Linked DNA regions of Homo sapiens: regions 1, 2 and 4 are each linked to region 3. The links come from fine-mapping of genetic effects on gene expression. A gene starts in region 3. Each other region holds a variant in brackets. All regions are shown on one strand. Distances are between the middles of the regions. Region 1 holds the start of CGB3 (chorionic gonadotropin subunit beta 3). Region 2 holds the start of MIR4750 (microRNA 4750). Region 3 holds the start of PNKP (polynucleotide kinase 3'-phosphatase). Region 4 holds the start of SPIB (Spi-B transcription factor).

The links. PIP is the estimated chance that this variant, and not a neighbour inherited with it, causes the effect.
Region 1: its variant is fine-mapped to the expression of PNKP in rectum (CEDAR, PIP 0.95).
Region 2: its variant is fine-mapped to the expression of PNKP in whole blood (TOPMed, PIP above 0.99).
Region 4: its variant is fine-mapped to the expression of PNKP in cerebellum (GTEx, PIP 0.98).

The regions. Positions count from the first base shown.
Region 1 is chr19:49,023,521-49,031,520 of GRCh38, forward strand. It overlaps CGB3 (chorionic gonadotropin subunit beta 3), which reads right to left and starts at 813. Exons shown (of 3, transcript NM_000737.5): 1 at 437-813; 2 at 1-83. The coding sequence starts at 451. It also overlaps the pseudogene NTF6A and the pseudogene NTF6G. The variant A/T (reference allele first, on the strand shown) is at 3,422.
Region 2 is chr19:49,886,114-49,894,113 of GRCh38, forward strand. It overlaps TBC1D17 (TBC1 domain family member 17), which reads left to right. Exons shown (of 17, transcript NM_024682.3): 14 at 1,363-1,460; 15 at 1,605-1,721; 16 at 2,118-2,204; 17 at 2,311-2,637. The coding sequence ends at 2,511. IL4I1 (interleukin 4 induced 1) reads right to left here. Exons shown (of 8, transcript NM_152899.2): 6 at 5,292-5,360; 7 at 4,858-4,994; 8 at 3,541-4,487. The coding sequence ends at 3,557. MIR4750 (microRNA 4750) reads left to right here and starts at 2,062; the gene lies at 2,062-2,117. LOC124904743 (a long non-coding RNA gene) reads right to left here and starts at 1,363. Exons shown (of 4, transcript XR_007067293.1): 1 at 1,081-1,363; 2 at 333-650. RefSeq lists enhancers at 3,966-4,633, 4,634-5,302, 5,303-5,969 and silencers at 4,009-4,178, 4,409-4,598. The variant A/G (reference allele first, on the strand shown) is at 3,899.
Region 3 is chr19:49,863,850-49,871,849 of GRCh38, forward strand. It overlaps PNKP (polynucleotide kinase 3'-phosphatase), which reads right to left and starts at 3,727. Exons shown (of 17, transcript NM_007254.4): 1 at 3,620-3,727; 2 at 3,205-3,368; 3 at 2,550-2,596; 4 at 1,278-1,577; 5 at 475-554; 6 at 330-387; 7 at 115-222. The coding sequence starts at 3,355. AKT1S1 (AKT1 substrate 1) reads right to left here. Exons shown (of 5, transcript NM_001098633.4): 3 at 7,963-8,000; 4 at 7,698-7,867; 5 at 5,190-6,211. The coding sequence ends at 6,068. RefSeq lists enhancers at 1,617-2,399, 2,400-3,182, 3,183-3,964, 6,163-6,810 and silencers at 3,124-3,493, 3,564-3,863, 5,938-6,247.
Region 4 is chr19:50,414,179-50,422,178 of GRCh38, forward strand. It overlaps POLD1 (DNA polymerase delta 1, catalytic subunit), which reads left to right. Exons shown (of 27, transcript NM_002691.4): 20 at 637-812; 21 at 1,260-1,412; 22 at 1,546-1,648; 23 at 2,218-2,350; 24 at 2,432-2,545; 25 at 2,867-2,919; 26 at 2,994-3,091; 27 at 3,664-3,836. The coding sequence ends at 3,769. SPIB (Spi-B transcription factor) reads left to right here and starts at 4,760. Exons shown (of 6, transcript NM_003121.5): 1 at 4,760-4,807; 2 at 5,768-5,795. The coding sequence starts at 4,785. RefSeq lists enhancers at 597-716, 666-1,450, 1,451-2,235, 2,127-2,186, 5,607-5,656 and silencers at 847-1,026, 1,427-1,516, 1,697-1,856, 3,387-3,526, 3,557-3,616 and 1 more. The variant G/A (reference allele first, on the strand shown) is at 4,595.

The DNA of each region.
Region 1 (8,000 bases), 840 kb before region 3:
TTGATGGGGCGGCACCGTGGCCGAAGCGGCTCCTTGGATGCCCATGTCCCGCCCATGCTCAGCAGCAGCAACAGCAGCAGCCCCTGGGACAAGGACACTGCTTCACCCGGGTCTGAGACCGCAGCCCCGAGTCCTGGCCTTCCCATCCCGCGTGGTACACCACCCACAAAGACCCAGAGACCCTTCCCGGCATCTCCTATTCAGGACCCACCACCCGGACACCTGCCTTTCAGAGCCCACCCCACAGCCCAGAGGACCTGAGATACCCCAACATTTCAGATCCGCACCTTCAGGAAATGCCCCACCTGAAGCTTACTGGGGGTCACGCTCCTCCAGAAAGAGGCCTCCTTCCACAGCTCACACTGGTCTGACCCCTTCTCATGCCAGTGATTGCCTGGAAGGAGGTGGAAGGTGCCCAGGGGCCCTGCAGTCTTACCTGGAACATCTCCATCCTTGGTGCGTCCCCTGCCTCGTGTACCTGGCTTTATACCTCGGGGTTGTGGGGGCGGCAAGGCCACCAGGAGGTGATAGGATGCTGGGGTGAGCTCGACACTAACCCCTCGGGGGGCAAGAGGTAGACAAGGCCAGGGGGGCGCAGGAGTGGCTCAGCGGAGCGCCCCAGCCCTCTCCTCTCACTGGTCCAGCGCCAAGGGTGAGGCGGAGACCACGGTGAAGTGACCTCAGAGACTCAGTCGTCGAGTGCTAGGGACTAGTCGAGGCTGGAGGCACAGGGAGTAGGGTGTAGGAAGGCCTGCCTCTGCCTATGGTGGGGTCCTGGGAGCCAGGAGGAGGCCGTGACCCGAGAAAGGTGCTGGACTGAAGCCTCAACCCTCCTCTACTTGAGGCTTTCCTGCACCACAGTCCAACCTCCCAGGAGGGGCGCGGCTTCGGACTTAGTTTCTGCCCAATGAGAGAGGGCCTCCCCGTGACTGTGCTGCCAGGGAAGCCACTTGACCCTGGTGCCGCCAACGAGGGATTCAGCCCGAGCCCCACCTCTCCCTTAGGGACCTCCGCCCACCCTACCCTCAAGCCAGGATGCCCGGAGCTGTCCCCGGAAATGCGTGTGCTTCAGGTGATTTAACTGATTATTGAATAGGCCCGCAGGAGGTGTGTCCTGCCCATGGGGCCGAAGCCTCGGAGGACATTATCTGGACTTAGTCCCTTCCCCGCGATGCCATCAAGCTGGACAATTTTAAGGTCTGTTTCTTTCCCAATGTAGGGTATAGGTTGGCACAGGGAAGAGGGCTAGAAACCTGACTTGAGCTCCCCGCCCAGGGCTGAACTCTCCAGCATCCTGATCACTTCTCATTGAACCTTGCTTATACTCCCCGTGTGATCGGTAGCTCTTTATCTCAAAACAGAATATTCTAAGCCAACCCCTGCCTGCTCTCACCAAGTAAGATTTCTCATTTGAACCCCAGCTCCCAGATACTTAAAGGCCTTCTGTAGACCATGTCCTCAAGGTCCCCTGGCCATCTGCTTGCATGTTCCAGTTTCCCTCCTCCCCCATGCACATCGTGAAATGTGCCCTCCCACTCCCCAGGATGAGCAAGGTGGTGTCCTCTGTGACTGAGCAGTCAGCAACTTAACACCAAAGGTCACCAATGATCAAATCCATGAGAGTTGATCCGAGGAGTTATGTATTAGGGCTACGAAAGAGTAAACACTCAGTAAATAGTGGCTATTATTATTATCATCATCATCATCATCATCATGATTACCCTCAAGTTCCCCTGGGAGAGCTCCTATTCAACCTTCAAAACCACATGTGGTGGCACCCATCCTGCAGAGATTGAGCTCAAATTCAGAGAGTTGTGATTTTGTGATGATTTGATGAGTTCCCCAACTGGGGTCCGTCCGTAGAGCAGCTGGGCCAACCCTGAGGTCTCTCAGCATCCAGCTCTGTTCTTTTTCTGCCTGACCAGTTCCTGGGTATAAGTCTCAGGCCCGGCCAGTCCGGCTGAGGAGTGTGCAGACACAGGCTGTGCCAGTTTGAATCCATCGCCAGTCCACACGGCCCTGGGCATCAGCGGTCAATGCCCGCACATAGGACTGCTTGGCCTTGCACTCAGACACCCAGTGCCCCCCGGTCCACACCCCGGCGGCAGCCCCCTCCACCTACCCCCGGGCCACCTTCCTCAGATTTATCGGCCTCGAAGTGGGCAACAAAGAAGTGCTGGCGGAGGGAACTGCCGACAGCTGCAGGCACCTCGCCCAACACCTCCACCTCGAGCACACCCAAGTCCACAGCAGTCCAGGGGTCTGTCACCCAGACACTGACTGCATCGCACACGGCCAGCTCACCCTGATGACTCGCCGGTGAAGTATCGCTCACCCCTCGCTGGCTGCGGTTGGCCCGGGCGCCTGCTGACTCCCGAAAGGCTCCAGTCTCCAGCAGGAAGACCAGAGGGGGCCCGGCAGCGGCACCCCTAGACAGGACCACTCGGGGGAAAAGAAGGTCCCACTCTGGAGGAGGAAAAGGCGACAATGTCGAGGATGGGGTTAGGACTCCATTGACACACTGGGGAGGAGGAAAATGAGGGGGATGCGGAGGGAGCCTGGGGGAGTGGGAGCATCTCTCAGAGCATCTCTCAGAGCACATGGAGACAGGGAAAAGGAGGCTGGGATTAGAGAAGAGGATAAACACTTCAGTGGGGTCAGAAGTTGGAAACCCCAGGGGAGGCCTGCCTGCCAGGATTATGGGGAAGCCCTTGCTCTAGAAGTTTGGGGGACTCCATATATAGGACTTGCATCACACCCAACTTGTAGATTAATAATAAATATTCAACAACTACAGGTCAGGCACTATGGCTCACACCTGTAATCCCAGCACTTTGGGAGGCTGAGGCGGGTGGATGACTTGAGGTCAGGAGTTCGAGAGCAGCCTGGCCAACACTGTGAAACAACATCTCTACTGATAATACCAAAATTAGCCAGGCCTGGTGCTGCACGCCTGTGGTCTCAGCTACTCAGGAGGCTGAGGCAGGAGAATCGCTTGAACCCGGGAGGCCGAGATTGCAGTGAGCCAAGATGGTGCCACTGCACTTCCGCCTGGACAACAGAGTGAGACTCTGTCTCACAAAAAAAATAAAAATAAAAATAAGGCCGGGCATGGTGGCTCACACTTGTAATGCCAGCATTGTCGGAGGCTGCAGTGGGTGGATCAGCTGAGGTGAGGAGTTCCAGACCAGCCTGACCAACATAGAGAAACCGCACCTCTACTAAAAATACAAAATATCCTCCAGCGTGGTGCTGCATGCTTATAATCCCAGCTACTTGGGAGGCTAAGGCAGGAGAATCACTTGATCCCAGGAGGCAGAGGTTGCAGTGAGCCAAGATCGCGCCATTGCACTTCAGCTTGGGCAACAAAAACAAAGCTCCATCTTAAAAAAATAATAATAATAATCATAAAATAAAGATA[A/T]AAATGTTCGGCCGGGTGCAGTGGTTCACGCCTGCAATCCCAGCGCTTTGGGAGGCCGAGGTGGGTGCATCACCTGAGGTCAAGACTTTGAGACCAGCCTGGCCAACATGGTGAATCCCTGTCTCTACTAAAAAAAAAACACAAAAATTAGCTGGGTATGGTGGTGCGCACCTGTACTCCCAGCTACTCAGGAGGCTGAGGCAGGAGAATCGCTTGGACCCATGAAGCAGAGGTGTAGTGAGCCGAGAGCGCGCCACTGCACTCCAGCCTAGGTGACAGGGCCAGACTCCGTCTCAAAAAAAATAAAAATAAAAATAAAATAAAAATAAAAGTAGAAAATATTCAACTACTATTACTCAATAGCAACAGATGGTAAAATACAGGCTCAGAGAAATTAATGATTTGTGCCTGGTCACACAGCCAACAAATGGCAGAGATGGGACTTCACCTCTGGGCAACTGCACTCTGCTATCCTTCCTGTAGAACTCTGAGGAACCGAGGGTCTTGCACCCTGGAGGATGTTCCAATCAATTTTTTTTTGAGGGGGTGTCTCACTTGTCGCCCAGGCTGGACTGCAGTGGCGCGATCTCGGCTAACTGCAGGTCCACCTCCCGGGTTTACACCACTCTCCTGCCTCAGCCTCCCGAGTAGCTGGGACTACAGGCACCCACCACTATGCCTGGCTAATTTGTTGTATTTTTTAGTAGAGACGGGGTTTCCCCGTGTTAGCCAGGATGGTCTTGATCTCCTGACCTTGTGATCTGCCTGCCTCGGCCTCCCAAAGTGCTGGGATTACAGGCATGAGCCACTGCACCCGGCCCAATTTTTTTTTTTTTTTTTTTGAGACAGAGCCTCACTCTGTCTGGCCAGGCTGGAGTACAGTGGCACAATCCTGGCTCACTGTAGCGCCTGCCTCCTGGGTTCAAGTGACTCTCCTGCCTCAGCCTTCTGAGTAACTGGAATTACAAGCGCCTGCCACCGTGCCCTGCTAATTTTTGTATTTTTAGTAGAGATGCAGTTTCACAACATTGGCCAGACTGGTCTCAAACTCCCAACCTCCAGTGATACTCCTGCCCTGGCCTCCCAGAGTGCTGGGATTATAGGCCTGAGAAACCACGCCTGGCCCCAAACAAATTGCTTTAAGACGAGGTCTCCCTATGTTTCCCCACTGCACTTGAACTCCTGGGCTCAAGCCATCCTCCTGCTGTGGCTCCTGAGTAGCTGGGACTACAGACTCAAGCCACCACGCCTGGCCACATTCCACAATTTAGAGAAAGTGCACAACCTGGAATCCTAGGGAGACCCCGATTCACCTCAAAACTGCCACTAAGGAGGTAAAACGCTGCCCCTCTGAGGCAGGCTTCAGTTTCCCTGTGTGTGAAATTGACCTGGCGCTGGGAGAGGCTGGTGGAGGCGCGGATTTTGCAGTTTCCCTACAACATTCTGGAAGCCTGTGGTTCTGGGAAAGGTTGGCGTGGAGAAGACTGGGAAACAACCAGTGGTCACCAGAGCTGTAGCACCTCCTCCACCTCCGAGCTCTGGGGCTGGGAACCCCAGGCTTCGGGGCCCCTGTGGAGGACGCAGGTGGCCCCCTCTTTCCTGACATCTCAGGAGAGGGAGGGGCAACCGGCTAGCAGAAGAAAAGCACAGGAAGGTTATACAGCCAGGTGGGGAAGGGGCCAAATCCCTGAACAACCCCTTCCCAGAGTTCCTCTTCAAGTGCAGGGTACCCAAGAGTCAAGGCCCCGCCCCCTTTCCAGAGGCCCCTTTTCTACCCAGGTGATGGGTCCTAGCTGGGATGGGAGGCAGATGGACGGAGGGGAGGGGGGAGGAGGGGAAGGGAGAGGCAGTGGATGAAGGAGGATGGAAGAGATGACATCCCCCTCGGCCCATTCATCCCATTCAGGTCCCCAAGCCGCGCCCCTCTCCGCCCCACCTGCACTGCCAGTGCCAACATCAGAGGGAGGAAGAGGGAGCTCGGCTTAGAAGGCTGAGGCCCTGCCACCTGGGCCACACCGATCACGTGGCCTTCCTTCTCCCCACAGAAGGCCAGACCATGGACACCTCCTGAGCTGGAGGTCATCCTGCATCTCCACCCTGTTTTCTTTTTCTTTCTTTCTTTCTTTTTTTTTTTTTTTTTGAGATGGAGTCTCGCTCTGTCGTGGAGGCTGGAGTGCAGTGGCGCGATCTCTGCTCACTGCAAGCTCCCCCTCCTAGGTTCACTCCATTCTCCTGCCTCAGCCTTCCAAGTAGCTTGGACTACAGGGGCCCGCGACCAAGCCCAGATAAGTTTTTGTATTTTTAGTAGAGACGGGGTTTCACCGTGTTAGCCAGGAAGGTCTCGATCCCCTGACCACATGATCCGCCCGCCTGGGCCTCCCAAAGTGGTGGGATTACAGGAGCGCAGCACCACGCCCAGCTAATTTTGGTATTAACAGTAGAGATGTTGTTTCACAGTGTTGGCCAGGCTGCTTTTGAACTCCTGACCTCAAGTCAAACACCCGCCTCAGCCTCCCAAAGTGCTGGGACCACAGGTGTGAGCCATAGTGCCTGACCTGTAGTTGTTGAATATTTATTATTAATCTACAAGTTGGGTGTGATGCAAGTCCCATACATGGAGTCCCCCAAACTTCTAGAGCAAGGGCTTCCCCATAATCCTGGCAGGCAGGCCTCCCCTGGGGTTCCCAACTTCTGACCTCACTGAAGTGTTTATCCTCTTCTCTAATCCCAGCCTCCTTTTCCCTGTTTCCATGTCCTCTGAGAGATGCTCCCGCTCCCCCAGGCTCCCTCTGCATCCCCCTCATTTGCTTCCTCCCCAGTGTGTCAATGGAGTCCTAACCCCCACCCTTGACATTGTCCCCTTTTCCTCCTCCAGAGTGGGACCTTATTTTCCCCCAAGTGGTCCTGTCTAGGGGTGCCGCTGCCGGGCCCCCTCTGGTCTTCCTGCTGGAGACTGGGGCCTTTTGGGAGTCAGCAGGCACCCGGGCCAACCGCAGCCAGCGAGGGGTGAGCGATACTTCACCGGCGAGTCATCAGGGTGAGCTGGCCGTGTGCGATGCAGTCAGTGTCTGGGTGACAGACCCCCGGACCGCTGTGGACTTGGTTGTGCTCGAGGTGGAGGTGTTGGGTGAGGTGCCTGCAGCTGGCAGCAGTTCCCTCCACCAACACTTCTTTGTCACCTGCTTCAAGGCCGATAACTCTGAAGAAGGTGGCCCAGGGGTAGGTGGAGGGGCTGCCGCTGGGGTGTGGACCGGGGGGCACTGGGTGTCTGAGTGCAAGGCCAAGCAGTCCTATGTGCGGGCATTGACCGCTGATGCCCAGGGCCGTGTGGACTGGCGATGGATTCAAACTGGCACAGCCTGTGTCTGCACACTCCTCAGCCGGACTGGCCGGGCCTGAGACTTATACCCAGGAACTGGTCAGGCAGAAAAAGAACAGAGCTGGATGCTGAGAGACCTCAGGGTTGGCCCAGCTGCTCTACGGACGGACCCCAGTTGGGGAACTCATCAAATCATCGCAAAATCACAACTCTCTGAATTTGAGCTCAATCTCTGTAGGATGGGTGCAACAACGTGGGGTTTTGAAGGTTGAATAGGAGCTCTCCCAGGGGAACTTGAGGGTAATCATGATGATGATGATAATAATAATAGCCACTATTTACTGAGTGTTTACTCTTTCGTAGCCCTAATACATAACTCCTCGGATCAACTCTCATGGATTTGATCATTGGTGACCTTTGGTGTTAAGTTGCTGACTGCTCAGTCACAGAGGACACCACCTTGCTCATCCTGGGGAGTGGGAGGGCACATTTCACGATGTGCATGGGGGAGGAGGGAAACTGGAACATGCAAGCAGATGGCCAGGGGACCTTGAGGACATGGTCTACAGAAGGCCTTTAAGTATCTGGGAGCTGGGGTTCAAATGAGAAATCTTACTTGGTGAGAGTGGGCAGGGGTCGGCTTAGAATATTTTGTTTTGAGATAAAGAGCTACCGATCACACGGGGAGTATAAGCAAGGTTCAATGAGAAGTGATCAGGATGCTGGAGAGTTCAGCCCTGGGCGGGGAGCTCAAGTCAGGTTTCTAGCCCTCTTCCCTGTGCCAACCTATACCCTACACTGGGAAAGAAACAGACCTTAAAATTGTCCAGCTTGATGGCATCGCGGGGAAGGGACTAAGTCCAGATAATGTCCTCTGAGGCTGAGGCCTCGGGGGCAGGACACACCTCCTGCGGGCCTATTCAATAATCAGTTAAATCACCTGAAGCACACGCATTTCCGGGGACCGCTCCGGGCATCCTGGCTTGAGGGTAGAGTGGGCAGAGGTCCCTAAGGGAGAGGTGGGGCTCGGGCTGAATCCCTCGTTGGCGGCACCAGGGTCAAGTGGCTAACCTGGCAGCACAGTCACGGGGAGGCCCTCTCTCATTGGGCAGAAACTAAGTCCGAAGCCGCGCCCCTCCTGGGCGAGGAGGTTCCACCTCCTAGGTTCCTGTGATTCTCCTGCCTCAGCCCGAGTAGTGGGACATCCCACTTGCTCCCGCCATTCTGTTTACCACAGGTGACGACCGCCATGGCTGACAG
Region 2 (8,000 bases), 22 kb after region 3:
TACTAAAAATACAAAAATTAGCCGGGGGTGGTGGCGAGCACCTGTAATCCCAGCTACTCAGGAGGCTGAGACAGGAGAATCACTTGAGCCAAGGTTGCACCACTGCATTCCAGCCTGGGCGACAGAGCGAGACTTTGTCTCAAAAAAAAAGAAAAAAGAAAGTTAAAGTTGCTGTTTGATATCATTGTTTTTCTTGAGTGCAGATGGTGATGATAATAAGTTAAACTTATTCATGAACATTTCCTCGATGCTTTAGGACCCCCGGGGGAGGGAGCTGAGATACTCTGTCCTCACCTTACTGATGAGGAAACTAAGCCATAGAAAAGCATCACCTCCTAGGGCACAAGGACAGAGGCTGCCTCTGGGTCATTCAAAGTCTTCTGAAACATCACTTTTCTTGACTGCGCGGCATTGTGTCCACCTGCAAGATGTGGTAGATTTGATGTAACTTGACCTGCTGGAGATTCGGGTCCTTTGCAGTTTTTCATCACGGTGCATAGTCTGGGTAATTTCTTCTTTAGGTTCACTTCCAAGAAGTGGAATTTTGTTCAGGACAGTGCTTGTTTTCACACAGCTTTGGAGAGTTTGTCCTCCGTTGTTACTTTCCTCAAAGGTTAGAATGCTCAGACTCTCACTTTCATTTGAGTTAACTTGGGGGGAAAAAAAGGTTCAACACCAGCTTAATTTTTTTTTTCTTTTTGAGATGGAGTCTCGCTCTGTTACCCAGGCTGGAGTGCAGTGGTGTGATCTCGGCTCACTACAACCTCCACCTCCCGGGTTCAAGCGATTCTCCTGCCTCAGCCTCCCAAGGAGCTGGAATTACAGGGGTGTGGCACCATCCCAGCTAATTTTTGTATTTTTAGTAGAGATGGGGTTTCACCACGTTGGCCAGGCTGTATTTTTAGTAGAGATGGGGTTTTACCATGTTGGCCTGGCTGGTCTCGAACTCCTGACCTCAGGTGATCCACCCGCCTCACCCTCCCAAAGTGCTGGGGTTACAGGCGTGCGCCATCGCACCCGGCCTTCAGCTTAAATTTTTGCTACAGCGTATCTAGGAGTGTCAGTTCCCTTAGCGCTCACCAGCAGCGGGCAGAGGTCTGTTTCGTCGGGCGTGCTGGGCGTCCTGCCTCCCTTCCATGTCCATGGCAGATGTGGAAGTATAATAGCACACTTCCTCTGGAGAGTGGGAGGAAGGAGGGGCAGGGCCCGCGTTCAGGGCTGCTCCTGCCTCACCTCCGAGGTTCCCCAGCCAGGCATAAGTCACTTGCCTAGACTTGGGGAAGGTCTTCCAGTCAGGATGACTTCTCAAACTCTCAGTCCCAGCGCTGGGCAAGGCTGAGTGGGCTCCATGTCATCCCCCAGATTCCCAGGACTCCGGCTCTCTCTGCTTCTGTTTCCGGTGGCTGCTCATCTGGTTCAAGAGGGAATTCCCCTTCCCGGATGTCCTTCGGCTGTGGGAGGTGGGCCAGCCAGTTTGGGCGAGAGGCCTGAAGGGGTGGGCTCACCTGCCCTGGGAGGTTGGGCGGAGAGGGACAGACCCTGGTGGGACCTCAGGCCCAGGCTGGGCTATGACCTCCCTCCCTCCCTCTGTCCCGCACCCTCAGGTGCTGTGGACAGGGCTCCCTGGCCCCAATCTGCACCTGCTGGTGGCCTGCGCCATCCTGGACATGGAGAGGGACACCCTCATGCTGTCCGGCTTCGGCTCCAATGAGATCCTCAAGGTGAGGCTCCGGCCCCGCCCCCGCCCTGTCCCCCCTGAGCTGGGCGCTGCCCAGGGCCGCAGTACCTCCGGGGAGCAGGTGTTTAGTGTGGGATTATTGAAAGCCTGGTTAGTTGGGAGCGCAGTGGGGGTGGGGCCGCGTAGGTTTCCCTTCTGCCCCATGCCATGCCTGCTCCCAGCAAGGTCCTCCGGGCAGGTGGGTGGGGACCTTCCCTCCCCGAGTACGTGCTCAGAATGCTCCCGGAGGCCTGAGAAGCATGTCTCGCCCAGCGCACTTCTGAGCCCCCAGAGGGCCAGCCCGGTGTGTCTTCATTGTTTCCCAGCACGAAGCACAGAGTGGGCGCTCGGGCGGAGGTGGTTGAGTGCCGACTGGCGCCTGACCCACCCCCTCCCGCAGCACATCAACGAGCTGACTATGAAGCTGAGCGTGGAGGACGTGCTGACCCGCGCCGAGGCCCTGCACCGCCAGCTAACCGCCTGCCCCGTGAGTCCCCGTCCGCCCCGCAGCGCCCCGCCCGAACCCCGACCGACCCCCGCCCCCTTCTCACCTTCACCTTCCGCTTTTCGCTTCTCTCATCCCGTGCCTCCAGGAGCTGCCCCACAACGTGCAGGAGATCCTGGGGCTGGCCCCGCCCGCAGAGCCCCACAGCCCCTCGCCCACCGCCTCCCCGCTGCCTCTGTCGCCCACCCGGGCCCCGCCCACCCCGCCGCCCTCCACGGACACAGCCCCGCAGCCCGACAGCAGCCTGGAGATCCTGCCCGAGGAGGAGGACGAGGGCGCCGACTCCTAACCCCGCCAGGCAGCCTCGTTCTGCACAGGCACTTTAGCCCGAGCCAGGCACACCTGCGAGGGGGCAGGTGTGCTCCGCCGCCCTGCTGATAAGCTGGCTTCATTAAACTGACACTTCTCATGTGCAGTTGGCTTCTTGTTGGTGGGGGGAAGGCTGCCAAGTGGGCTCTGACCTGGTTGAGGAGGGGATGGTGGCTGGGCAGAGCCTAGGGTGAATGATTGGGGTTTGTGGAGGCAGGGCTTCCTGAGTTGCCTGATTTGTTTTTTTGTTTGTTTGTTTTATGAGATGGAGTCTTGCTCTGTCGCCCAGGCTGGAGTGCAGTGGCAGATCTCGGCTAACTGCAGCCTCCGCCTCCCGGGTTCAAGCAATTACCCTGCCTCAGCCTCCTGAGTAGCTGGGACTACAGGCGTGTGCCACCACACCCGGCTGATTTTTGTAATTTTGGTAGAGATGGGGTTCCACCATGTTGCCCAGGCTGGTCTTGAACTCCCGACCTCAGGTGATCTGCCTGCCTTGGCCTCCCAAAGTGCTGGTATTACAGGCGTGAGCCACCGCGCCCGGCCTGATTTGGGGTTTTTGGAAGAGGATAGGGTGCTCTGGGCTGTGGCGGCGACCTGGTAGCTGTGTGGGAACACTTCCCGGACATAACCAAGGTGGAAGGGCCTGCAGAGATGCACTCTGGGGAGCCTGCCCTCCCAGCTGCTGCTTGTGAGAAAAATCACCTCCTGTTCAGCCACTGTCAGCTGGGCTTTCTGTTACTTGCATTAGGGCCCATCTGGACTTCAGCCTCGTGACAGAGGTGGTCGCTGTGATTGCCATTTCCCGGTGGTGCAGGGCGTCCTTCCGGTTCCCTCTGTGCGCACCACCCCCCACCCTCCTCTGGAGCCCCACTGTCCAGGAAGAAGTGAGGGGCAGATTTTTGGGGGGGCTCCAGGATGGGCGTGGCGCCTGCTAACTGCAGGGCTAGTGGTTCCGATGCAGGCAAACTGGGGAAGTAACTGAGCCACGGGGGAGGCTGGACCACACGGCTTTTTCCGAAAATACTTTAATGCGAGGTCCTCGTGTGGGTCGTGTTTTGGAGAGATAACTGGCCTTGGACTGGAGGGTGGCTGCCTTCTTCCTTTGCCAGGTCATGCGAGGGGCTGCTGGCCACCCCATGCACATGCCCCTGCCCCTCCATGTCAGATGCGTGCCCCTCGGGGCTGGCCGTGTCCGATGCAGGCCCCTTCCGGCTGTTGATCTTGATGGCGGCGCGCAGCGCCGACTTGACCGCCGTCTCCACCCAGCCGTGCGGGTAGGCGGTGTGCTCGCCGGCAAAGTAGATGCGGCCATAAGGGACCGTCCAGTCATCCTTTTCGGTTTGCCAGAGCGCCGGCGGCTGTACCAC[A/G]AAGCCACCCTGGCTGTGCTGGTCCTCCGCCCAACGCTTGACGACGCCGGTGCCGTCCCAGAGCTGGCGCACGACAGGCCCGTGCAATGCCGCCACGTCGTCGAGCGCCAAGCGCAACGCCTCTTCCCGGCTCAAGCCGGCGAACGCTGCCGCCGCGTCCGACCACGTGTACGAGGCCAGCAGCAGCGCGCCCTCGCGCGGCGGCGGGTAGAAAATCATGCGCGACGGGCGATCGGTGTTTGAGTGGCCGCCTTCAATGTGCTCCTCGCGCCAGAAGGGCCTGCGGAAGCTTAGGAACACCTTGGTGGCCGGCACGTAGTGCAGCCTCCGCAGCGCCTCCTGCATGTGGCGGGGCAGCGGCGGCGAGAAGGTGATGCGCTTCACCGCCGGTCCGCTCGCCGTCAGCAGCACCACGTCGGCCTTCAGCACCTTCAGATTCCGCGCCGGGGGAGAGGTCTCGATCTGCACGTGCACATCGTGCGGTCCCTGGGTCATCGCCACCACGGGCGCGTTCAACAGCACAAGCCCGGACAGCGAGCTCAGCAGCGCGCGCGGCAGCAGGTCCCAGCCACCCACGATGCGGCTGTACCTGCAGGCGGGGCGGGGCGGGGTGGGGGCGTGACCTGGGCTCTGCGGCCCTGCCCCTCTGCCTTGCCCCACCCACCCCGGCAGCTGGCCCTTATGGGCACCGGCCCGCTCCCCCGTCATCCACCTCTCCCGACCCCGCCCGTCCCTGACATCCCAAAGGCCGCAGGAGTAGTGGATTGTGTCACCAGGGACCCCACCACTTCTCCCCTAGGCCGTGTCCTTTATCTGGGAACCCTTAGCCCCGCGACCATCAATTAGGCCACGCCCTTCACAACAGCCCCGCCCCCAGACCCAGAGGCTCCTCCCACTCCCTGCTACTTTCCCTGATTGCCCCCCGCCCCCCCCCCCTGCCCGCCAGCCCCGCCCCTTACTGGAGTCTGTCGCTGAGGCAGCTGTGGGCCCGGAGGGCCTCGGCGAAGCTGAGATAGAAGAAGCCATCCTCGGACATCACGTCTCCCAGAAGCTGCACGGCCGGCCGGCTCAGGTTCCCCTCCCCGAGAAGATATTCCTGCAGGTTGGGCACAGGCCGAGGTTAGGGCCCAGGCAGGCTGCACCCCTGAGAGAGCCCCTCCGCAGCTGGGCCTCCTGGTCCCATGACATGTCCTTGGACCGTAGGATCCTGTCCCCACTCTCTGACAGATGAGGGAAACGGAGGTCCAGACAGGGGGCGTGTCCAGCCCCCGGGTCAGGCAGGAAGGCGGTGGCAGGACTAGGGTGCCAGGTACCCGCCTTCTGACTCTCTGGGGAAGGCCTCATGGTCACTCTCTTTGCCCTGCATCTCAGCAGAACCAAGATCCCCACTTACCAAGAGCGTGTGCCTTTCAAACTTCTTCATCGCCTTTCTGCAGCCCAGTGCCTTGAGGTCTTTGAGGGCCTGTTGTGGAAGAAGCAGACATGGTGCTGAGCTGCCCGGGCAGCCAGGGTGGAGGCCGGGCCTGGAGCCCACACTCGGCTTCTCCTCGTGGTTCTGCCCACGGCTGGCCATTCACCACTCTCAAGCCCCTGGGCTTTTGCCCACACCATGCCCTCCGCCTTGCCCTCCACGGCAACTCAGATGCCACTGCTCCTCCGATATTACCGAACTGTTAACGCCGCCCATCCCCCCTCATTCGGCTGGCCCGGCTGGTCACAGCTCATCCCGGTTGCGTGTTATTTTGCCTATTTTTCAGCCAGCCAGCCAGACTGTGAGCTCCATGGAGGCAGGGATGTGGGCAGCTGGAGAGGAGACTGGGAGAGGGTCCCAGGCGTGCTGTGTCCTCCCGGGGGCTCAGTGATTATTTGTTGCCTGAATCACTGTGGCCACGGACAGAAGCTGGTCCCCTGTGCCACTGGTCAGTGCTGACAGGGCATGATGGCTGAGAAGTTTATCTACCGTCCGTCCCCTGCCCACAGCCCTCCTGTAGCTCCCCAGTGCCTGGAGCCACAGAATTCTTGCCCCTCAGCCTCATGTTCAAGGCCCCTGCTAGCCCCTCAATGTCTTTTTTTTTTTTTTTTTTTTTTGAGATGGAGTGTCGCTCTGTTGCCCAGGCTGGAGTGCAGTGGCGCCATCTCAGCTCACTGAAACCTCTGCCTCCCAGGTTCAAGTGATTCTCCCACCTCACCCTCCCAAGTAGCTGGGATTACAGGCGCCTGCCACCACACCTGGCTCATTTTTGCATTTTTAGTAGAGACAGGGTTTCATCATGTTGGTCAGGCTGGTCTCGAACTCCTGACCTCAAGTGATCTGCCTGCCTCGGCCTCCCAAAGTGCTGGGATTACAGGCGTGAGCCACTGCGTGCCAGGTACCCGCCTTCTGACTCTCTGGGGAAGGCCTCATGGTCACTCTCTTTGCCCTGAATCTCAGCAGAACCAAGATCCCCACTTACCTCAGTCCATGTCTTTTATGGCAGCTCTGGTTCTGTGAACAGTGTACAGTGCCCAGACCACCTGCCCTCAGGGCTCTCCCACCTACACATCTGGCACCTATTGTTTCCCTGCCTGTCTTTGCGTGGCACATGAGTGCGTGTTCTTCAGCACTTTGTTCGAATCTCACCCCCTCCCAGAAGCCTTGCTGCCCCCATCTAATTTCAGCCTTCTTCTTGGTCCACCTGGCTTCCCCCTTCTGGCCAGGACCTCAGAGGGAAGGCAGTGCCCCTTCACTCACTCATGCATCTCGCATCTCTCAGACTCCCAAACCAGTCAGTGTCAAGGCATAGAAATGACCTGGACATGGCCCCCATCCTGGTCTAGAAGGGGAGATGGGCAAGTGGGCTCTGACCTGGGTGGGGAGGGGATGTTGGGTGTGGCCAGTTCCTCCCTAAAGGTATCAGGGAAGGCTTCCTGGAGGAGGGGACATTGGAGCTAGTTCTTGAGGGCTGAGCAGGAGTTCCTGTGTGGGGAAGGGAAAGGCATTCTGGAAAGGGAGGGTGATACACAGGTATAGTGGGTGTGAGGAACACAGAGCTGGGGGCATGTGGACCACCATGAGGACAAAAATTTCTTAGAGGAGAAAAGAGCATGAGGCTGGAGGGGTGCAGAAGGGAAGGCCAGTCAGGGCTCAAAGCTGAGCCTGAAAAGATCAGACTTTGTCCTGGAGGCAGCGGGGAGCCACTGGGGGCTGTGAGCAGCATCACTCTGGGTGTGTGGGAAGACGTTTCTGGTACCAGGCTGGGGAGACTAGAGCCTGGGCAGCTTGAGAGGAGGCTGGGGGAGGGTCCAGGGCAGAGGAGGAGGCCTGAGCTGGGGCAGGCAGAGGGGAGCAGGGCACAAGCGTCAGGCGGCAGGGGTGGGCACTGATGGTGGGGGAGGTGGGCGAGGAGGAGGTCAGGAGGAGGATGGCTCCTAGGGGTCTGCCCGTGACTGCGGGATGGTGGGGCCATCGTGAGATGGGGGCACCGGGAGGAGGAACAGGTTTAGGGGAAGCTTCTGAGCCCAGTGTCCTGGGGAGGGACACAGATCAGGGTCTCGGGAGGCAGATGTCTCCATCAGCCCATGGATCTATGTTTAAGCCAGAGGTGGAGACTGGGGAGGTTATCCAGGACAGTGTGTGGGTGAAAGGGGAAGAGGCCAAAAGCTGATGCAGCTTTGGGGTCAGCAGTGTTTACGGGGAAGCTAAAGAAGGGAGTTGGGGCCGGGGGCAGTGGCTCACGCCTGTAATCCCAGCACTTTGGGAGGCTGAGGCAGGTGGATCACGAGGTCAGGAGTTCAAGATCAGCCTGGCCAAGATGGTGAAACCCCGTCTCTATTAAAAATACAAAAATTAGCTGGGCGTGGTGGCGGGCGCCTGTAATCCCAGCTACTCGGGAGGCTGAGGCAGAGAATTGCTTGAACCTGGGAGGCGGAGGTTGCAGTGAGCTGAAATGGCGCCATTGCACTCCAGCCTGGGTGACAGAGTAAGACTCCATCTCAAAAAAAAAAAAAAAAAAAAAAAAAAGAAGGGAGTTGAGAGATGACCCATATGTGTAGAAGCCCCTGGGCTGGCCCATTCTCATTCTCGGATTTCAGTGAGTAGGTCAGTGGTTAGACCTCATGGCAC
Region 3 (8,000 bases):
TTCCTATCAGCATCACACTGCCTGAGGCCTCCGCCCCGCTTACCCTGGAGTCTAAAGCCCTCGCTCTGGATCTCTGTGCCCCCACATAGCTCCCAGCCTCCCTTCCAGCCATACCTGGAAGGGGACCCCCAGCTTCTCCACCACAGCCTCCACCTTGGCCTTGAACTCCTCGGCTGGCAGCTTCCCGCGCCCGATGCTCATCTGGTTGGTGAAGATCACCAGCTGGGGAGCAAAGGGTGTCACCAGACGCTCTGCTCACCAGGGCCTTGGTCTGACTGCGGTCGGACCGCCACGTGCACGTGCCCATGCAGACAGGCGGCTGCACATACCTTGTAGCCCTCGGCTTCCAGCTCTCGGAGCTTACGGGGAATCTCTGGGTACAAGATCCTACGGCAGGTATGAAGCGGCAGGGGTGACCCGGGGCCAGAGGTGGACTCCAGGCCTCACTCACTCCCTTGTTTTGCCTCTTATCACCTCCAGTCACTGGGGCCAGTGGGAAAGACCTTCCCAGAGCGTGTGGTGATGAGCGTCCCGTCCAGATCAAAGCCAGCCACCTGGTGTCACCAAGGAAAGACAAACAGCAGCACTGTGATACCTCTGACCCTCCTCACTCACAGGCTGACTCACACCAACCCTGCCAGGCAGGGTGTTATCACTGCCATCTCACAGATGGGGAAACCGAGTCACAGAGCACCTCCATCTCAAGCATCCGTGATGCCTCTGAGTGGGGCCCGACATCTTAACCTTACTGTCTCCTGTTACTCCTTATGACGCCAGCCCCAGGATTACAGTCTTTAAAATGGGGGTTAATGTCTTACCCAGCCTCCTTCTTCCCCTGGCCTTCACCACCTCGGTGGGCTAATAACCGTGAAAATAAAAGCAGGAGCAAAGCTTTGGGTGCTAACTGCATGTCAGGAACTATGCCACGTGCTTTTTTTATGGATTCAGCATCGTAGAGATGAGACACATGGGACTCAGAATGTGGTGGTAACAGCATTTGAACTCAAGTCTCTCTGGACATAAAAAATCCTCATCGTAATAGCTCCTACTGAGACAGTCATGGTCATTGCTGATTACTGGGTGGTCACTGTGGGTAACGCAGGAGCTGACATATATCATTCTCCCCACTGCTTAACTGCTTACAACGATCCCTGCATTTATCATTAGGCCCATTTCTCAGAAAAGTAAGTAGAGGCTAAAAAGTTGAGAGCACGCAACAAACGTGGGATTGGGTCCCAGTCTGTGGCGGCTCCCTCAGCCCTCGGCGTGGCCCTCACCTTGCCCTGGGGTTTCACCCCAGCTGCGGTGAACACTAGCAACTTCTCCAAGTTCTCCCAGCCGGGGTTTGACTTCCGCATACGCTTCTTCGGCAGCTCAGCATCTCTCTTCTCATCTTGGGACACCAGAGGGGTGCCAGGCGGAGTATCTGGCTGGGATTCTGGTGTGCGGGTCTCTTCCCAGCGCAGGGTCAGTGGGTGGAGGCCATTGACCAAATACAGTGTGTCCCCCACCCCCAGAGAGCCCTCCAACCCCGGCTTCAACTCCTGGGTCCCGGTAGTTGAGGGGTTAACTCCCAGCTGCAGAAAGAGAGGGAGGAGCTGGGACTGGCTCCGCCCCCACCGGGAGCTTCCTCCAATCAAATACCCAGCGGAAAAATCAGCCCTTCTCCACCACTATCAGACCCTTAGGCCCCACCTCTTCACTTTGGAACGGGCTTTGGAACGGTTACAGGTTTTCAGCCTTGTCCGAATCTTTTTTTTTTTTTTTTTTTTTTTTCCCCTGGAGATATAGGCTTGTTTTGTCGCCCAGGCTGGAGTGCAGTGGTGCAATCTTGGCTCATTGAAACCTGTGCCTCCTGGGTTCAAACGATTCTCCTGCCTCAGCTACCCGAGTAGCTGGGATTACAGGCACCCGCCACCATGCCCCGCTAATTTTTGTATTTTTAGTAGAGATGGGGTTTCGCCATGTTGGCCAGGCTGGTCACAAACTCCTGATCTCGGGTGATCCGCCCGCCTAGCCTCCCAAAGTGCTGGGATTACAGGCGTGAGCCACCGCGCCTGGCCGCCTTGTCCAATTTCTAAGGTCTTGGACAGGTACCCACCCCACTGAAACAGGCAACACTTCTTTCTTTACTGGACACATCCCCTTCTCTCCCAGCCATATTTTTTCTTTTCTTTTTTTGAGACAGGTTCTCGCTCTGTCACCCAGGCTGAAGTACAGTGTGGTGATCACTGCTCACTACACCCTTGACCTACTGGGCTCAAGGGATCCTCCCGCTTCAGCCTCCCGATTAGGAACTACAAGGACGCGCCACCATTCCCGCTAATTTTTTAGAGAGACAGGTTTCACCATGTCGCTCAGGCTGGTCTCGAACTCCTGGGTTCAAGCGATCCGCCCGCCTCGGCCTCCCAAAGTGCTGGGATTACAGGCTTGAGCCACCACGCCCGGCCCCAATCAGATTTTCCTAATGTACCCCTTCACTGACGGCTTGCAATTCCTCCCCAAATCCCATCCCCAGGCCTTGCTGGCCCTTGCAGAGGCACTGATACCTGTTTCACTGCCACTGTCCGGGTCTCAGGATCTGCGACCAGCTCCACTGAGGATTGGAGGGGTGGAGTCAGGATTTGCATCCTTGTGTGATTGGGTCCCTCATTTCTGGGGAGTGTGGCCTGCTTCAGGCTATAGCATCCAGGGAGTAAGAGGCAGTTTATTTCTACATGGGATTGGCTCCTTGACATGCAGTAGCCAGATAGTGGCACTAGGATTGCCTGACACTGGTCCTTGCAAGGGACAGGGAGGTACTTTTCTCTACAGAATTGGTTTCCTCCTTGACAAAAAATGTGGCTAGATATAGGTCCGGGGCTTGGCCTGTTACCATCCATCCCAACCTAGCGACATTTACTTTTCTCCACAGGATCATTTTTCTCTTGACGAAGGTCGTCGCCTGTTTCTGGATTTCCCGATGGCCTGAGCATCATCCGCGCAGTGAACATCCTCCCTAAATCGGCTCGATCCCCTCTCCCCCAAAGGATCTAGCTAATTCTAAATCAAGCACAAACTTTATCTTCCTGTACTCCCTAGAGAGCACCTTCCGACTTCGGGGCTGGCTGCACCACTGCAATCCCGCGTAGCAGCCAAGCGTCCCTCTGGATTGTTCCCGCTTTTGCAGCAGGCCACACCCCCTCCAGCTCAGGCCCCGCTCACCTTGAGTTCTGGAGCACTTCCGGTCCGTAACCTGGGTCAGGGGTCCCCTGCCCAGGACCAGGGCTTGCCCGTCCGAGGGCAGGAAGATGGGGGGCGCTCCCCCAGGGGGGCTCTCGAGCCACAAGCGGCCCGGGGCCTCCACCTCGCCCATCCTGGGTGCCGGCCTGGGGAGCAGGTAAACGGGCTTGAGCGGCGCACAGCCCCAATTTGCTGCAGGAAGTCCCGCCTCCTCCCACATCCACTAGAAAGTTTCCCCACCATTAACTGCTCCGGAAGTCCCACCCGCTCGCCTTCCGCGGGTCGACCCGTTTCCCAGGCGACGACGCGTGCTCCATCCCTCCCCGAGTTGCAATCCCCACTTTCCAGCGTACAGGCAGAGAGCCTCGCACATGCCTCCGCCCCGCCCCGTACTCACCCGGGACCGCGGCTTGGGCTCACGGCCACTTCCGACCAGGGAGGTCCTGCCCGAGGTGCCCCGCCTGCAACCCGGCCGGCGGCGGTCGGTTCCTCGGCGGACGGAAATGACTCGTCCCCTCGTGGGTGGGGGGCGGGGCCTGGCCTCCTCCCACAGCAGCCACGCCCCTTCCCCGACTCCCGGCCCCCAGGGTCTCTCGGCAGCCCTGACCTTCATCTCTCTTGCTGCAACGCGAGGCTCAGGCCGGTAGCGGGGACTGGATCCTCCGTTAGCAGATTTGCCTCTTTCCACCTTGACTTCTAATTTTCATCCCAGGGAGGAAGATTTTTTTCCCATCTGATGGTCATTGTCAGTCGAGGAAACCTCCGCCCCCGACAGCGCCCCTAAGTCCTTCTTTGGCTTCACCCTCGATGTTCTAGTTTCCTCATCTATAAAAAGGATAATCGTTTCCGCTTCGTGGGGTTACCATGACGATTAAAGGAGCTAACACGTGACAAAAGCTTTAAAAAATGGGTGGTAGTGAGCCCTGTTTAAGTCTTTTTTTTTTTTTTTTTTTGAGACGGAGTCTCACTCTGTCGCCCAGGCTGGAGTGCAGTGGCGCGATCTCGGCTCACCTGCAAGCTCCGCCTCCCGGGTTGACGCCATTCTCCTGTCTCAGCCTCCCGAGTAGCTGGGACTACAGGCGCCCGCCACCACGCCCAGCTAATTTTTTGTATTTTGAGTAGAGACGGGGTTTCACCGTGTTAGCCAGGACGGTCTCGATCTCCTGATCTCGTGATCCGCCCACCTCGGCCTCCCAAAGTGCTCAGATCCGTTTAAGTCTTATTTAGTGTTAGCATTCTTTCGGTAGTGGTCTGGTGGGACTACGTTTACCTAGTCCTAATTTCGGACGAGGTTCCACCTGCTTTCTAACCTCCAGCCATTTTTTTTTCCCTTTGGAGAAGGGGTCTCACTGTGCTGCCCAGGCTGATCTCGACCTCCTGGTGTCATGTGATCCTCCCGCCTTGGCCTCCCAGCGTGTTGGGCTTATAGGCGTGAGGCACCAAGCCCAGTTGCTCCAGTCCTTTTATAATAGAAGACTCCCGGCTGGAGTTCCTGGCTTTGCTGGTGAATATGTGGGCTCTGTCTCCAACACTCACCTCCTCAAGATTGGGTTCCATGGTCACATAAGACTGGGATGCTCTCCTCCACCCCATGAACCTGTGTCTTCATATCTATAAAATGGGCACAAAGCCAGGCGCCGTGGCTCACGCCTGTAATCCCAGCACTTTGGGAGGCCAAGGCGGGTGGATCATTTGAGGTCAGGAGTTCAAGACCATCCTGACCAACATGATGAAACCCTGTTTCTACTGAAAATACAAAAATTACCCGGGCGGCAGTGGCGCGTAATCCCAGCTACTCGGGAGGTTGAGGCAGGAGAATCGCTTGAACCTGGGCGAGAGTGGGACCCTGTCTCAAAAAAGTAAATAAAATGGGCACAGTAATTCCAACCCCCAGCTATTCACTGATAATCAGACGCTGCCATTCGGTTTCAGAAAATGTTGAATGAACACTCACAACACACTTCACATTTATCTCAGAGGTAAAACTCTTTAATCTCAGAGCGCCCCTCCCAACTGCCGATCCCCCAACCCCTCACTCTCTCCCCCACACCAGGGCCGGAGAGTGAGGGCCCCTGCCCCCCACCTTGGGTGGACGAGGGCCCTTTAAGGCACCTGTGGAGGTGGGGGGCGAGGGGCGGGAGCTGGTACCATCCTGGATGCAGGGACGGGCTTCGATTGGCAGGCTGTTGTGGGGATGGATGGAACCAATGAAAGGGGGTGCCAGAGGCAGGGACAGTTTGGGGCCATCCCTGAGGGGGTCAGGGAACAAGTTGTCGGGACGTGGGCAAAGACGACCCCAGTCCCCGTAGTGTAAAGAACGTAAATTGAAGGCCCCGGGCCAATTCTGGGAAGAGGAGGGCTTGGCCACGCCCCCAGGAAGCTGGAGCCAATTGGGAGGGAGAACTCAGGAAAAGCGGACGGTGACTATGTAGAGACTGGTCAAGCCCTTTACAGGATTTGAGCCAATCAAAAAAAGAGCTGTCCAGCGACTAGGGGATGGAGCCAATGCCGTGCGAGCAAATCCCTTGTCGCTAGGCGGAAAACAAAGGAGTTGACCCATTTAGAGCTTAGAACTCAGCGAGCCAATCCCTTAATAGAAGGAATCTGTCGCTAGGCGGAGAGAGACGACAGACCCAATCGGGAAACGGGACAGATGCCGCTCCTCGGCGCGGCAGGTCGTGGGCTGGAAGGACGGCGGGGATTGGCAGAGGCGGGACAATCTTGGGAATGGGAGACGCAAGGAGGCCGGTCCCGGATCGGCCTCAGATTAGCAGGCCCCGGGAGTGGGGCGGGGGCGTAGTGTGGGACGGGGCGGACGCGGCCCGGGGCGCTCCCTCCCTGGACTTCAATATTTCCGCTTCAGCTTCTGGAAGTCGCTGGTGTTAAGCCGCGGCCGTGGCAGGTCCCCGAAGACCTGGGTGTCCTCGGCCTCTCGCAGCACCAGCGCGCGCATGCTCGCCGCGATGCGGTCCAGGTCGGGCGAAGAGGGCTGCGGGGACGGCGACGGGGCGAGGTCAGCGCCGGCAGGGCAATCCCCCTGCACCCACACGCGGTCCAGGGGTGCACCCGGGCTCCAAGCCCACTTCTAGCACGTCCCTGCCCTGCCACCTGTGCCCTGCGATGCCCACTGCCAGCAGTGCCCCTCCCCGTCTTGCTCCACGTAGGAACCCTTCTACCCGGTTCAGACACCTCCTCCACGAAGCCTACCTGCCCCTCTCCCTCTCCCCTTCTTGGCCTAGGACATTGCTTCCTACACAGTGGAAGTGCTGTTGCCTGCTAGCCATTAAGGCTGAGTGCACCGTCTCATGTCTGAGGATCTGGGCTGGGGTTTCAGTCATGTTCCAATCAGACCTCTGCCGCTGACAAACTATGAGCAAGAGGTTTTGCTTCCCTAGGCCTCAGTCTCCCCTTCTGAAAAATGGGGCGGATAACAGGGTCTCTGTGAGGGCTGAGATAATCAGCTGTTACTGCCTTATCATGTGGCCACTGCGCTACAGAAAAGATCCCTCGCTGTGTCAGCCCCCGCCAAGGAGCCTGCAGTTCTGGCACCTAGTACTGCCTCCACTACAGCCCCCGTCACCCGGAGCTGGGCCTGTCCCCTCGCAGGATGGGACCCGGAGACCCAGATCAGGAACTGGACCTGAGCCCAGTGGGAGACCAGCCCCCGGGCACAGCACGCAAGAGGCCAGAGCATTCAATTAACTGTGTTGCCATGAGTCGCAAGCACAGAGAGCAGCAGCAGGTGGACCCCGCCCGCACCAGGCCCTGTTCCTGGTCTTCAGTGCTCACTGCTTCATTGAGGGAGGATGCACAGAAAAGGTCACCACTGTGACTGCTGGTTTGCATATAAGGACACTGAGGCTTGAGGGGGGGACTGTGGGGACCCAGGCCTCCTCCCTCAAAGCCCACAGCTCCTTCCTGAAACACACCTGGGTTCCAGTCCCAGCTCTGCCTCTCAGGGAAGTCACATGTCCCCTCAGTGCCTCAGTTTCCCCTCTGCTTCAGGGAGGCTCAGTGAAGGGTGAGGAGGACCCACCTAGGCCAGCAGAGCCCAGCCCAGGAGCTTCAAACAGGGGTTGCTACAAGGGGTGAACAGGGGACCAGGGGGTGGGACAAATTCTGCAAAGGGCTAGGAATGTGCAGGGTGGGGATGGGAGGTGATCTGAACCCTCCAAGCCTCAGTTTCTCCACTGGAGGGCATGCCAAAACACCTGTGCCTTGCCCAGAGCAGGTGTTCTATAAATAGAGACGCTCCTGGAAAGGAGAGGCCTTCTCTATAAGGCACTAGGACACATGGTAAGGCTGCAATTGTTAAAACTGCAAGGCTCGTGTCCAAGAACTCGCCTCTTGAGGTTGAGGGGAGGATTCAGTTAGCTTATGGGTGGAAAGCAGCATCCATGCTGGAGGGCTTCCTGGAGGAGGCGGCTCAGAGCCCTTCCAGCTGCCCTCCCTACCTCCCCACATTTGCCCCTCACCGGCCCATTCTCCTCATCTGATGACCGCGCCTCTGTCCTCTTCTCCTTGAAGCCCCAGACGGGCACAGACACAGGCAGGGACTTGGCGTACTGCTGTGTGGGTAGGGCTGAGGCTGGGGGCACTGAGCAGGTGGGGGGGCCGGCGGGGGTCTCCTCGCTCAGGCTGCCATCTGAAAGAGAGGGTGGACTTCAGCTTCTGTCCCTGCCTTTGTGTCGGCCGTGTGCCTGCCCTCAGGTCGGGAGGGGAACAGCCTGGGACACTCACCATCTGTACTCTCGGGGTCTGACTCACAGAAGGGGGGA
Region 4 (8,000 bases), 550 kb after region 3:
GGGTGCACCTTAGATCTGTGCACCATTGCCCCTGGCCCTCTGAGTGCGGCACACTTGGTCCCAGGAAACCTTGCACCATATTTTCTTTTGAAGAGTCTGGGTCTCGCTCTGTCGCCCAGGCTGGAGTGCAGTGGCGAGTTCACAGCTCACTGCAGCCTCCAACTCCTGGGCTCCGGCGATCCTCCCGCCTTGGCCTCCTGAGCCGCCACGCCCAGTTCTCACACTGTACTGTTTCCCCGTGGCTTAACGCTCTCTCGTGCCAGGCCTTGGACTTGGAGCCTCGCAGAGTGGGGAGGTCTCTGCCTCAGGGCTCACCCAGCCGTAGTTTCTCCTCTCTTTCATGGGATGCTTCATCGACTCGCCTGTCTGGATCTCATGTTTTAGGGACTATCTGGATTTATCCCAGTCTCTGTTTCAGATTGGGGTCTCTGGTGTGGGGGCTCTGGCATTGCCGAGGGGCCTCAGGAGCCACTTCCAGCCATACAGTGTCTCGGTCCATCCCACCAGGCTCAGGGCACGGCTCCCATGTCCTCAAACTGCGTCTGGGACCCTGTCTACCTTCAGTTTCTGGGGGGCGTCTCCAGATTGGGGCTTGGCCTCCTCAGGCTCAGGGTCTTGGCCATGGCTCCCTCCCAGGTCTACTTCCCATACCTGCTTATCAGCAAGAAGCGCTACGCGGGCCTGCTCTTCTCCTCCCGGCCCGACGCCCACGACCGCATGGACTGCAAGGGCCTGGAGGCCGTGCGCAGGGACAACTGCCCCCTCGTGGCCAACCTGGTCACTGCCTCACTGCGCCGCCTGCTCATCGACCGGTGTGTGGGGCCTCCTCCCTCAGACTCAGGGGGCTGGGCCCCAAACCCCTCCTCCCTCAGACCCAGGAGTCTAGGCCCCAGCCCCTCCTCCCTCAGACCCACGGGTCCAGGCCCCCAGCCCCCTCCTCCTCAGATCCCGGGGTCAGGGCCCCCAGCCCCTTCCTCTCTTAGATACAAGAGTCCAGACCCCCAGCCCCTCCTCCTCTGGGAACACAGGTGTCAGGCCCAGCTCTTCCTCGGTGGTGAAGCAGTGGAAAGAGTCGGCTTGGGCAGCTGTGGGTTCAGGCCCTGCCTCTGCCACTCTGCAGCCTATGGTAGGAAGGGCCCCTCTCTGCCCTGAGCCTCAGCCCTAAGAGCTCATCCTGGTCTCCAGCCCTGAGACCCGTGGAGGCACCAGCCTGGCCCTCAGTGCCTTTTGGTGACGCTGTGCGGCCCGCTCTCCTACAGAGACCCTGAGGGCGCGGTGGCTCACGCACAGGACGTCATCTCGGACCTGCTGTGCAACCGCATCGATATCTCCCAGCTGGTCATCACCAAGGAGCTGACCCGCGCGGCCTCCGACTATGCCGGCAAGCAGGCCCACGTGGAGCTGGCCGAGAGGTCCTGCGCGGGGCGGGTGGCCTGGCCAGAAATAACCCCCTCCTTCCTGCCAGCTGGGCCCACTTCCTACACCCTCGCCCCCACCCCCGCCACCCACCTGCCCTCACCCACCCGCCACCCCATCTCCACGCAGGATGAGGAAGCGGGACCCCGGGAGTGCGCCCAGCCTGGGCGACCGCGTCCCCTACGTGATCATCAGTGCCGCCAAGGGTGTGGCCGCCTACATGAAGTCGGAGGTCAGGCCCACCTGGCTGCCTGCTCCCGCCCAGCCCCCTCGCTCTCACTTCTGCTTTCCGAGATGGGCGGGCCTGCGGGAAGGGTGGGGCCTCCCGTGCCCTGTGGGGCCCTGAGAACCGCCCCCCATGGCAGCCTGGGTGTGGCCTCGGCCCCCTCTGGAGGTCCCCCCTCTATTCTGACCCCTCCCTTGCTTCCCTATGGAAGGGGCCCCAGTCCCTCCCCTGTGCATACAGCTCCCCAGCCGGGGGTTCCCTTGGATTCATAATCCTCCAGCTCTACCCCCACCCCCAGTGACCCACATCTTAGCCCCATGACCTCTGACCTCCTGACCCCTTCCTCATCCTTGCTTCCCCTTGTGAACTCTGACCCTTCCGTGGTGACCTGAGAGCCCTACAGACTCTGTGGCCCAGAGACTCCGTGACCTCCGACCCCATCCCAGACCCAGGCCCCCCCCATGTCACAGCCCGCAGGCAGGCCTAGGCCCTAAGCCCCAGGCCCCATGACCACCCCGTGTCCACCCCGGTGCCCTTTCCCTGGCTGCCCGGGTGTGACTGCCATGTGGCCGCAGGACCCGCTGTTCGTGCTGGAGCACAGCCTGCCCATTGACACGCAGTACTACCTGGAGCAGCAGCTGGCCAAGCCCCTCCTGCGCATCTTCGAGCCCATCCTGGGCGAGGGCCGTGCCGAGGCTGTGCTACTGCGTACGGGGGCACCAGGGGACTGGGGGCACCCTGGGGGGGCAGAGGAGATCACCGGCCCACCACCTGCCTCCTCTCCTGCAGGGGGGGACCACACGCGCTGCAAGACGGTGCTCACGGGCAAGGTGGGCGGCCTCCTGGCCTTCGCCAAACGCCGCAACTGCTGCATTGGCTGCCGCACAGTGCTCAGCCACCAGGGTGAGCGGCCCTGGCCACTGGGCCCCCACTGGCCCTCAACCTGCTCTGCCGTCACCCCAGATCCTAGACACCCACCCCATCGGCTGGCACTGCCACCCAGTGGGCCCAGGGCCCCTGGGTGGGTGGCCCCTGTCTCCACCCCCCACAGAGGGTCCTCGGCCCCCACCCCGGGAGTTCCCCAGGGGAGTTTTCCCAGCACACTTGCTCCGTTGTTCTCCAGCCTCTGGGGACTTTCAGAAGCTGGGATTGGCAGTGGGCAGGGATGGGGTGGCCCAGTTCCTGGCTGGGCCCCAGCACTTGGGCTGACCCGCCTCCCCACAGGAGCCGTGTGTGAGTTCTGCCAGCCCCGGGAGTCTGAGCTGTATCAGAAGGAGGTGAGAGGGCCGGGAGGTGAGGAGGGGCCAGGTGGGGAGGCGGGGGCGCCCTGCTCAGCCGCTGCCGTCCCCAGGTATCCCATCTGAATGCCCTGGAGGAGCGCTTCTCGCGCCTCTGGACGCAGTGCCAGCGCTGCCAGGGCAGCCTGCACGAGGACGTCATCTGCACCAGGTGTGTGCCATGTCCCGACCCTGGGCTGCCCCGCCCCTTCCCAGCTCCCAGGCCTGTGGGTTGTGGACCCAACCTCTGACTCCAAGGCCTCTCCTGAGCATCCTCCCCGCCCATCCCCTTCCAGCTGTGAGCTGTCCTGAGCCTCAGTGTCCTTGTCTGAAAAATGGGCCCATCCCAGCCCCCCAGAGGGGGTGGGTGCTTAGGGAGGCAGCGCCCGGCACCCAGTGTTGCCCGGGAAACGGCTGTCCTCCCGACACACCCAGCCAGCCTGGCCCCCTCCCCAGGGCGGGGCCGGGCTTTCCCCAGGGAACGGGTAGGCGGGGTGGGTTCCCACGCCAGGTGACAGGTGATATACGGCCAGCCATGGCCCTGCACCTCGCCAGGCACCCGCTGTTATCGGCTCCCCCCCCCCACCCCCCCCGTGCCTGCTGAGCAAACAGCCCGCTGCGGGAGGGGGCGGGTGGGCTGGGCAGCAGGCGGGGACCAAAGTCCTGGGAACAGCCCCCACCCCTCTCCCAGGCTGGGCACTGGGCCTTGGCTGGTCCTGACCCTGCCCCTGCCCCCACCCGCAGCCGGGACTGCCCCATCTTCTACATGCGCAAGAAGGTGCGGAAGGACCTGGAAGACCAGGAGCAGCTCCTGCGGCGCTTCGGACCCCCTGGACCTGAGGCCTGGTGACCTTGCAAGCATCCCATGGGGCGGGGGCGGGACCAGGGAGAATTAATAAAGTTCTGGACTTTTGCTATATGGTGCTTTGTGGTCTCTGGGGGACACTGTCTGGTTTCATAAGCCCTGGCCTTGGCTGGGACCCTCCTGAGGCCCGCACCGCCCCTCATCCTCAGCAAAAGCCCCCGGACTCCCACCTGTGCTGCCTGGTTCATGTGGGCCAAGCCTGCCTCAGTTTCCTCTCTGGCCCTGAAGGAACCCTTATACCAGCGCTTCTCTGCCCTGCTTAGGGCCCCCAGGTGTCTGGCCCCGGCCCAGCCCTCCCTGGTGATGACCCTGGGGACCCTGGTGGCTGCCCCGCCCTCCAGGTGCTGACCTGTTTCCTCCAGGCCCTGGGGCAGCCCCAGGCGCACCGGGGCTTCCACTCCTCAGCCCGGCCAAGGGGACCCCCCCATCCCCCGCCGGACCACACACCCACGATGTTTCCACGTCGGGGTCCTGGCAATGGGCTTTGGGTCTGGGTTTCCCCCCAGCGACTCCCATCTCTATCCCCGCAGCCTCTAACTGCCGTCAGATGCCCTCGGCCCTCCCGTCACCTCACACATCCCCCGGGGAGAGTCTTGTGCTTGCCCCTCGGCCCCCAGCCCGCCCCTGCTGGAATTCGGCTCCTGGGTCCAGATCCTCCGTTTCCTGATTCTCCTCTTCAGTGAACCCCAGCCCTTCCTCGATGTTTTCAGGGTTCCCCCAAATCCAGCTCCTGTCCCATCTCCAGCCCTCAAGGTCAGCCCCCCAAACCCAGCCCCACGGGGATCCCCAAATCCAGACAGCCCCTGGCCC[G/A]CCATCCCTGCCATGTGACAAAGGGGTTGTGCAATCCAGCCCCCTCCCCTGACCCCCTCCCTGAGGGGATTTTTGAGGAGGGCCGAGCTTGTGGCCAGCGGGCACCCTCCTCCCCCCGGCAGGGGCTGGGCCAAGATATAAATAGGGTTGGCGGCTGCAGCGGGCGGCAAACAGCCCGCCCGGCACCACCATGCTCGCCCTGGAGGCTGCACAGTAAGTGAGGGCCCCCAAACCTGCACCCGGGGTCCCCACCTGCACTGCCCCTCTGTGGGGCCTCACCCATGGGCAGTGGTTTCTCTGCTCCTCACGGCCGGTGGGTGGGAGTGGAGGGGAGGGGTCCACCCTGTCTCTTGCCCCTTCTGGTTCTGTTCCCTCTTCACTTCGGACTCTCCATCCCCCCAGTTCCTATCTTTCCTGGTCCCCAAAGATCTCATTTCCCCAGAACACTTGCTAGCGTGCCCTCCTGCGGGCGTCCTCCGTGGCTCTCACTCTGTCCATCCTCCTGTCTCCCCGAGTTCCCGTATCTGTTCGCTCTGTATCTGGCATCTCCCAGCTCTCAACATTCTGCCTGTTGCTCTCTGTCTCTCTGCCTGTCTCTGTGTCTCTGTCTCCAGTTCTCGCTCTCCCTGCCTTTTGGTCTCCTTCTGCCTCACCCTCACTCTCAGTGCCTCCATCTGGGGCTCCAGGAATCCTCCCCGCCTCTGTGCGTGAATGTCCCTTTGCACACCTTTCTCTGTGTCCCACCTCTCCTTGAGCCTCCTCATCTGAGTCTTCTCCGGGCTTCCCCCTCTCTACCCAGACATCTCTCCATCCTTCTCCTCTGGTCCAAGCTGGACTCAACTGACTCGCCACCAAGGCCGCACTTGACCCAGGCCCCCTCTCCATCCCCACACCTCCTTTCCGGGACTTTCTCTCCCTCACTTTCCCTGCCCCTCCCCACCAGGGTGTCTATGCAAATTCTGGGGAGGAGGGGGACATTTGCCTCCCCCCCACCCCCCACTTCCTGTCCCAGCAGGGGGTAGTGGGGGAGTCCGGTGAATGTGGTGGGGCTGGTCCCTCACACAGGGCTGCGGTGGTCACAGCTGCTGCCGCCTCCCCATCAGCCCCCAACCACTTTGAGATTCAGGTGGCTGGAGGCAGCCTCAGCATGCCCCTGTGTCTCTCCCCCTCCAGGCTCGACGGGCCACACTTCAGCTGTCTGGTGAGTTGGGGCCCCTGGGGGCCAGGGAGGGGTGGCCCACAGTGACCTCCCTCAGAGAAGTCATTTGCTTCCTGCCTCAGTTTCCCCTCCCACCTCTTCCTGTCACTTTGTTTCTGAGCTCCCCCTTGGTATCTCCTGCTACCCCGCATCCGTATTTTTGATGTCTCTCTCCCCCTCTCAGGCTTGAATCCACTTCCTTGTGGCTTTGTATCTCTCTCTGCCCATCCCATATTCAGACAATGTATTTTCATGTTCCTTTCCTTCTTTTTGTTCGTATTTTTAAAAATTGTGTTCTCTAACAGTTCAGATACGGAATACTATACCCAACACCCTTGAACCCACAATCCAGTCTGAGTAATCAAATCTTACTGATGTGGTTGAAAGAAAGCCCCTGTTTATGCCCCTCCACATTCACACCCCAGCCATGTTTTTTTTGTTTGTTTTTGTTTGTTTGTTTTTTAATTGAAGTGTAACTAACAAGTCAGTAAAGTGACAAATCTTGTGTTTTTGCATTATCTATACACCGTGTAGCCACAAGCCAGATCAAGATACCGAACATTTCAATCTCTGAAATATTCCTTCCTGTCCCTTCTCAGTCAATACCTTTCTCTGATATTTTCCGCCACCAATTTGTAATTTGTTTTGCCTGCTCTTTTTTTTGTTTTGCTTTTTGAGAAGGAGTCTCGCTCTGTCACCCAGGCTGGAGTGCAGTGGCAGCGTCTTGGCTCACTGCAAGCTCCACCTCCCGGGTTCAAGCAATTCTCCTGCCTCAGCCTCCCAAGTAGCTGGGATTACAGGCATGTGCCACCATGCCCAGCTAATTTTTGTATTTTTAGTAGAGGCAGGGTTTCACCATGTTATCCGGGCTGGTTTCAAACTCCTGAGCTCAAGTGATCCTCCCACCTCAGCCTCCCAAATTGCTGGGATTACAGGCGTGAGCCACCGCACCCAGCTGCCTGCTTTTGAACTTTATGTAAAGTGAGTCATACAGCATGTCCCTTTTGGGGTCTGGCTTCCCTCACTCAACATGAAGTGTGTGTCAGTGTTTGTCCTTTTTCCTTGCTGTATAGTACTCTATCTATGATCAGCCCACACCACAGTCTGTTTATCCCTTCTTCTGTTGATGACACCTGGGCTGTTTCCAGTTGGAGACTCATAATAAAGCTGCTGGGATGATTCTGGAACAAGGCTATTTTGTGCACATCCATTTTCAGTTCTCTTGATTAAATGCCAAGGAGTGAGACTGCCAGGTCCTAGGCATGGTGTGGATCTAGCTTTAGTTTTTCCTAGACTCGAGTTCTTGAAGCAACAACACATGATTCATGGGGCGAATCAACATATGGAGATTTATTTATTTATTTATTTATTGAGACAGAGTTTTGCTCTGTCGCCGGGCTGGAGTACAGTGGTGCGATCTCGGCTCACTGCAACCTCAGCCTCCTGGGTTCAAGCGATTCTCCTGCCTCAGCCTCCCAAGTAGCTGGGACTACAGGTGCGCACCACCATGCCTGGCTAATTTTTGTATTTTTAGTAGAGACGGGGTTTCACCATGTTGGCCAGGCTGGTATCGATCTCCTGACCTCATGATCTGCCTGCCTTGGCCTTCCAAAGTGCTGGGATTACAGGCATGAGCCACCATGCCCGGCCTATTTATTTTTCGAGACAGAGTCTCACTCTGTCACCCAGGCTGGAGTGCAGTGGCGCGATCTCAGCTCACTGCAACCTCCACCTCCCAGGTTCAAGCGATTCTCCTGCCTCGGCCTCCAGAGTAGCTGGGATTACAGACATCTGCCACCAGGCCCAGCTAATTTTTGTATTTTCAGTAGAGATGGGGTTTCCCCATGTTGTGCAGGCTGGTCTCGAACTCCTGACCTCAGGTGATTCACTGGCCTCAGCCTCCCAAAGTGCTAGGATTACAGGCGTGCGCCACCACGCCTAGCTAATTTTTGTATTTTTAGTAGAGACGGGATTTCACCATGTTGGCTAGACTGGTCTTGAACTCCTGACCTCAGGTGATCTGCCCGCCTCGGCCCCCCAAAGTGTTGGGATGACAGGCGTGAGCCACCACGCCTGGCCTGGAGGTGTATTTAAAAAGCATTGACCCCTGCCTCTGTTAAGTGAAACACTTCCATTTCCCCTTGCCCTTCACCTCCGGAGCCCCCAGGCAGGCAAGGCTGGGGGAGTTCTTCCACCCCTTCTCCAGGC